2 linked regions of the Homo sapiens genome follow. The protein of the gene in region 1 interacts with the protein of each later gene in a biochemical or structural test. Each region holds a gene or a part of one and is shown on either strand. Other genes may lie near its edges.

Evidence for each region.
Region 2: the proteins of CFHR5 (region 1) and PTX3 form a complex in vitro, tested with the Homo sapiens proteins (one study listed by IntAct).

What each region holds. Positions count from the first base shown.
Region 1 is NC_000001.11:196,994,556-196,998,055, reverse strand, and holds part of CFHR5 (complement factor H-related protein 5 precursor), read right to left. Parts: intron 2,340-3,500; coding exon 2,157-2,339; intron 2,035-2,156; coding exon 1,855-2,034; intron 1-1,854. UniProt on the Homo sapiens protein: Involved in complement regulation. The dimerized forms have avidity for tissue-bound complement fragments and efficiently compete with the physiological complement inhibitor CFH.
Region 2 is NC_000003.12:157,439,850-157,444,133, reverse strand, and holds the end of PTX3 (pentraxin-related protein PTX3 precursor), read right to left. Parts: intron 1,769-4,284; coding exon 1,155-1,768; 3' UTR 501-1,154; downstream 1-500.

The sequences.
Region 1 (3,500 bases):
TATGTTTGATGCTTTTAAGCAACATCACAAAACTTATTCTTAATCTCATTGCACAAAATAGACAATGCTGTTGGAAAAAGAAAAAATAAAACAAAAAACTGTATCCCATCTTTGAATGACAGGAAAGTAGGTCAGAAAGTTTTCTGGGAAATGAAAGTGCAAGATAGGTTTTCCTAGTGGGAGTTTTGACTGAAAGATAGTTCTTAGGAAGCTACAAATGAATTGTTAGAGGCTCTGAAAATGTACACATGTATGATTGTTTTGCACTAAACTATCTTAAATATCTTCAAAACATTTAAATAATAAAAAGAGGCAATACATGGGTAAGTCTGCAGGAAGCAAAGCATCAGTAAGAGATAGATCTGGGTCCCCCTTGAGGTTCAATGACTCACATTTCAAAAGCTCAGCAAAAACTCTGACTCAGTAAGTCAGAGTATTCTCAGGGGAAGAACTCACTGATAATAACACAACTGAGCTTCAGAACATAAATTCCTACTAAGCCTCTTGCTTGTCTAAGTAGTTCTCATTGTTACATTTTTTTCCCGTTTCCCATAAACATGTAGATAGTTATGGAGCCTTTTCCTTAGTGTGTAAAAGGATGGGATAATGAGACATGGAGTGTGCTCTGCTACTTCTATGCTTACAGGTGTTTTCTGCAATAGTTTCTATTTTTAATTCACCCCATATGGGGCTAGAGGTTGATATTTATGTACTCCTTGCATAAAAGTTGATGACCATGAAGATATATGATCTACATCTTCCCATAACAGCGTTCTGGCTCCTGGTAGTGGAAAACATTCCCTCACAATAGGTCATCACGGATGGCCACTGACCAGGTATTTGCTGGGACAACGGCTGGCAACACCTACAGTAATTTTTCCCAGCAATGAGTGGGCCAGTTGATTATCCAAAAGTCCAGGAGATGGAGAGAGAGGCGGTTCTGTTTCAGTTTCTGTAAGGAGGAGAACAGCGGCGGAAAGTCTGCTTGTCTTTAAAGTTCAAAATTAGAGGCTTTAATGTATTGAGGTTGCTAGAGATAGGACAAAAGAGGCCAGGATCTGAGGGTGTCGGGAAAAAAAATACCTGCAAGTACTTAAGTGTCAAGGCTGGAAGTCCTGAGGCTGCAAGGTAAGAGTAGAGCACACAGGCTGATAGACTACTACTACTTACTACTTACTACTTACTTACTACTTACTACTTACTACTTCTGTGGAGGAAACCGACAAACTAAGTAGATAATTAGGAATAGAAATAAGAGAATTATGGGACCAGAAAGAGCAAGGATCATGCCTAGTTCCTGGGTCCTAGTCCCCTACTCTTCTTCTATGAAGGGATTCCAAACACTCTGGAATTTAATAGAACTCAAGCTACATTGCTATTTTTTAGGTTGTTCTATCTGGAACATGCTGAGGTAAAGACTAAGTTAAAGCAATGAAATAAAAGAAATTAAATCGCCATCATTTGTAGAAATACAATATCCCAATTAAATATTAGAACTAATACAGAAATTCAACAAGGTTACTGGAAACAAAAATAATGTATGCAATTAAATCACATTCTTGCATATAGAAAGTATAACTATTCAAGCATATACATTAATAAAAGTTTCCATTCATCATGCCAGAAAAATCCCAAATAAATTGGTGAAGAAATCTGTGCAGTAATAACAAGAAATTCATAAAACCATATGGTAAAGTTTAATGTAAGACCTGAATAAATGGATTGACATATTTTACTTGTGGAAGGAAGAGTCAGTATCAATAAAATTGTAATTCTAGCCAGATTTATACACTTTATACAATCCCAATCAAAATGATAAATAATCAAATATAAAGTTTAGGAATGTTTTCTCACCAACACACATAGGAAGCTCTGTCCATATTCCATTAATACAGGTAATCATGTTATTTCCAATCATTGCATATTCATTTCTGCAATTCACCTCGACTGAAACTCCATGTTGATAGGGAGGGACAGACGGCTGAACATAACCGTACTCGAGTTCAGGTATGTATCCACATGTTTTCACTTGTTCTAAGAAAATGTAATAAAATGAGTGCTTACTCTGAAAATATTTTAAATCTGTTTACATGTGTATTTATATATAAGTGCAAAGTAATAGTAACTGTCCTGTTTAAATGTTAATATTTATTTACCAACACAAGTGGGTAAAGTTGTCCATTCTCCATCCACACATTGTATTTTCTTAGGCCCGTTTATTATAAAATTAGGATTGCAATCATATTCCACTACTTCATTGTGTCCATATTCCTCTTTTCTTATCTCCTTAACTTCACCATTGGAGAGTTGAGGAGGTGGACCACATGATCGTACTTGTCCTATTATAAAGAAACCATAAATAATGCTTAAATGGTCTTATAAGTATAGAAAAATGTGGAGTTACTAAATTTTTGACTTAGAAATTAATTGCCTTTATATTGCACTTCTATTTTTGGGGACATGTGTTTTTTGCAGTGTACATAGTGTATTGACTGCATTCGTTTCCTCAAATATTGACACTTTTCATGATGAACAATTTTGAGCAAATGAAAGGAGAAAGAATGCATAATGAACACTTATAAACTGATTACCTAGATATAAAAATGTTACACTTTGCCCTATTTACTTATTTTTTGTGAAGTAATTGAAAGTAAATGACAGTGAAATTTTAGTCCTAAATTCTTCAGAATGCTATCTCATAAAGACATTTGCCTACATATACAAAATATCTTTTACATTTCACCAAATTAATAATATTTTCTTAGTACAATCTTATATCCTCTCTATATTTAAACATCCTGATTGTCCATCTTTCCCAATATTTTGTAGGCTGTTTATTATAATCAGGATATTAAGTTGTACCCTTGAAGATTTTTAAGTAGGTCAATAATCTGAAAGTTATATAAAAGTAAATAGTTATCAAATATGTGATATAATATACATATGCAATGTATAGTTATAACTTTTATTAATATCTATAAATACTTTGATATGGATTGGCTGTGTCCTCACCCAAATCTCATCTTGAATTGTAGCTCCCACAATTCCTATGTGTTGTGGGAAGAACCTGGTGGGAGGTAATTGAATTATGGGGCGGATCTTTCCTGTGCTATTCTCATGATAGTGAATAAGTCTCACGAGCTCTGATGGTTTTATAAAGGGAGGTTTCCCTGCACAAACTCTCTTCTCTTGTCTGCCATCATTCGAGATGTGCCTTTCACCTTCTGCCATGATTGTGAGGTCTCCCCAGCCACGTGAAACTGTGAGTCCATTAAAACTCTTTCTTTTGTAAATTGCCCAGTCTTGGGTATGTGTTTATCAGCATTGTGAAAAGGGACTAATACATACTTCAAATAATGTGATAAGCCATTTTTGATAAAAATAGTGCCATCTGAAGCAGGTATAAATCATCACTGTTTTCTAATGAATAATTCGTATATGCAATGACTTATTTTCTTAATTACTTAATAAAATATAACATTGTTCGTACAATATTTCTA
Region 2 (4,284 bases), on another chromosome or scaffold:
GGAGAATACTAGTGTGGTGGGGAAAAGTTACCTCCCCATCCACAGTGTGAAGGGGCTTGACCTCTCCCTTCTGAGTAAGGAAGAGAATGGGGTGTGCTTTCAGGGCAGGAGTTCTTTTCCAGATTCTTAGGTCTCCCAAATAACATTCCTAAGCCATGTCTTGCAGCATCATGTGTATCTGAGGAACTGTGATAATTCATGTTTGGTGTTTGTTTTTATGTTACACAGTACAGAAAGTTGTATAAGCTCCTAGAATTGTCAAATGGGAAGAGTCCTAGAGATTCTTATTTCATCAATTCCTTGATTTCTCAGCTGAGAAAACTAAAACCCACAGAGATGAATTGACTTGGCAGAGATAATATTTCTTGCTTATGATTTATAGGAAGCCAAACTTAAAACAAGTCTATAGTTGCTCATTCCTAACAATATTAACCATGCTGTTTACATAATAGTATCTGAAAACTAATTGCCTACTTTAAATGAAAAGAGAAAAGTACGAGTTTGCTCCAAAACATCTCTTAAATTTATAATTAAATGACGTGAGCTAGTTTTATAAAATATTTTATTTACAGTAGAGCTTTACAAAAATAGTCTTAAATTAATACAAATCCCTTTTGCAATATAACTTATATGACTATCTTCTCAAAAACGTGACATTCGATTATAACACATAAACTACATTTATAGTTGTTAAGTCACCTTGTAGTATAAATATGTTTTCATCTTTTTTTTGTAATAAGGTACATACCAATAACAATGAACAATGGACAACAAATCTTATTTTGTTATTCTTCCAATGTAAAATTCATCTCTGGCCAAAACAAAATTAACCAAAGAAAAGTAAAACAATTGTCCCTCTGTTCAACAATACAGTCCTTTTTAATTATTTGAGAGTTTATCTGACAGAGACACAGCATTAAACTGAAAGCACCATGGCATAAAGTCTAGTAACATTATCCTCAAAAGCTTTTTCCAATGTCTTTCCTTCAACTGTTTATTCAGTATTTGGCCAGTACAAATAAAGATTGGTCTCAACTCTCTCTTTCATTAGTCTCAAGTGTTCCTATTATGCACTGAGTTTTCAGACCTTCCCAACTGGCATGTGTTTTAAGTGTGAGTTTCTTTCTTTGGCTTCAAGTGGAGTTTCACAACATTTATGAAACATACTGAGCTCCTCCATGTGGCTGGATCTCTGTGACTCCCCACCCAACAATATTCCCCCGGATGTGACAAGACTCTGCTCCTCCGGTCTCTCTTATCTCTTCATTGCTAAGAACACTATCCCAGATATTGAAGCCTGTGAGTCTCCCAGAGAAGGCTAATGTTTCATCAAAGCCACCACCCACACAGCAGCCATTCTTTTCTTGGCCAATCTGCAGGATTCCTCCCTCAGGAACAATGTGACCTGTGGCCATCTCAACAGTGGTAGCCGCCAGTTCACCATTTACCCACAAGGATGTGAGCCCTTCCTCTGAATTCCAGGTGCCGCACAGGTGGGTCCACCTTCCCAGGGAAACCATGGCTTCAGCAACCAGTTTGTTCTCCTCTCCACCCACCACAAACACTATGGATTGGTAGCTGAGATACAGCTGGATTTCATATGGATTCCTCTTTGTGCCATAGGAAAACAGGATGGTTTTGTTTAATACATCTGTGGCTTTGACCCAAATGCAGGCACTAAAAGACTCAAGCCTCATTGGTCTCACTGGATGCACGCTTCCAAAAATCTTCTTGGAACGCATTGGGAATAAAATAGCTGTTTCACAACCTAGAGTAGCAAGAAAATAAGAAGAATATTAAAGAAAATATAAATTAATTCAGAATTATTCTGGCATTAGTTATTTAACATAAGAATTTTAATTATTACAATTGAAAGCTATGTGAAACCCTACATTACGACTTAAGAAGCTTCCACTGTAATCTCTGCAGAGCAAAGAAAATGAGAAAAAGGAAAGCCAATTGTCTTATCCAATGAAGCATCTAAATGAAGAGAAAGCACGCAAATAGAAGAGCCAACTAGTCCAAACCCACAAAATAATAAAAGCCATAACTACCTCCCCTTCCAATTTGCATATTTTCTTTGTTACTGCTTTTTTTTAAAAAAGTTGAATCACTATCAGTTAACTTCAGACAATAATTCTATAATTTCCAAGAATTCAGAACCCAACCTGGTTCTCTCTTTTTGCCACCACCAAGTTCCTAAAATAATAAACCTGTGAAATTCAGTAGACCTAGTTCGCTCCATTTAGCCTTTACCAACATGCATTTTTCAGCAAAATTCTAGGATAGTGATGTTATTGCAGAATACATTTTTTTTTTTTTTTGAGACAGAGTCTCACTCTGTCACCCAGGCTGGATTGCAGTAGTGCGATCTCGACTCACGGCAACCTTCGCTTCCCAGGTTCAAGCGATTCTCCTGCCTCAGCTTCCGGAGTAGCTGGGACTACAGGTGCACACCACTGCGCCCAGCTAACTATTGTATTTTTTTTTTAGACACGGGGTTTCACCATGTTGGCCAGGTTGGTCTTGAACTCCTGACCTCAAGATCCGCCTGCCTCAGCCTCCCAAAATGCTGGGATTACAGGCATGAGCCACCACACCTGGCCTGCAGAATACATTTTAATACACCAAATGTTCTCAGATATTTGTAAACTTTGCAGAGTTTTTAGAAAACTACCTTTGAAAGGCAACAATGTATAATAATGATGACTAAGCTTATTGGGCATTCACTATGTATCAGATACTGTTCTAATCATTTTGTTTGTCATTTTAATCCTTATGCCAACCATAAGAGATAGTCTTTTACATTCCTATTTTACAGATGAGAAAACTTAGGTAAAAGTAACTTATCTATGTTTACATAGCTGATAAGCAGTAAAACTAGAGTTTGAATTTTTGCAGTCTGGTCACAGAGGCCACGCCCTTAATCAGCACACTACAGTGCCTCTTATTAATAGAACCCCTAGATTTCTCTAGGAGGGCTAGAATCCAGATGGTGTTACTACTAATGAGCCATGCAACTTTGGATGAGCACCATAATTTCCTCTAGGCTTTAGCGTTATCTAAAAAAGGCCCTTCCATTCTGCTCCTAATATTCTGCAAGTCTGTAAGCAGCAAGTATGTAGCACTTAAGAGCTGAATAGACCAAAAATGTGTTTAAAAATTCTACCTTGTCCACATGCTTATAATTACTATTTAAGCAGTAATTGAAAATCTTTAAGAGAAGTACATTCTTTCAAGGGGCCTGGTTGGAGAACATGTTTCTGCTAAAGAGCACTTGGGAGGGGGACTTTCAAATTTGAGGTGGAAAGCTCAGTAAGTTTCCACCATTGTCCATCTCAAGGCGACTTAGCCATTTGGGAAGCTGGAGATGCTGAAACGAAAACCTTTTACGTGTCCCTGGGAAAGAACAGGTGAGCTCTGCATCTATATACATAAATATATATATATGTATGTATACGTATATATACACACATATATACATATGGATATGTATGTATGTATACATACATATATGTATATAAATGTGTGTGTATATATATGTGTGTATGTGTATGTAGGTATTTTTTTAAAAACACCTAAATTAGGGCAGGTATAACAACCTAAAGAAGATATGCCATAAGACAGCTTTGAAAAGCAAACTCCCAGAATGGTTCCAGAATAACTGGTAAAGAGAAAGAACTTGCAGAAACCAAACATCCATGTAAAAGTGTGGTAAACTATGTCAGATTCCTACAAGTGGCTCAGGGGTAGGCTCTATCCTGAAAACATTAAACAAATATGAACCTTATCCTTTAGTGTTAGGGATAGTCAAATAAAATATTGGCATTCAGATAATCATATAAAAGTAACTACAATACTAAAACACAAAACTGGCTCTGTCATGCTTTGATACTTTTTCACTAAATAATTTGAACTTTTGAAGATTTTTTAAAATTAATTTTTAATGAGGCAGTGATTCTATTTTCAAATGAAATTGCTAGGTACATCTTTTCTTCCAGCTGTGTTAATTAAAATCAAATAAAAATCACTGAAAAAAATCACCATATCCATGGGCATTTGATATAGTCTCTATAAAGTTTCAATAAAGTAGTGTTCAATCACACCTGTAATCCCAGCACTTTGGGAGGCTGAGGCGGGTGGATCACAAGGTCAGGAGATCGAGACCATCCTGGCTAACACGGTGAAACCCCGTCTCTACTAAAAATGCAAAAAATTAGCTGGGTAAGGTGGCGAGCACCTGTAGTCCCAGCTACTCAGGAGGCTGAGGCAGGAGAATGGAGT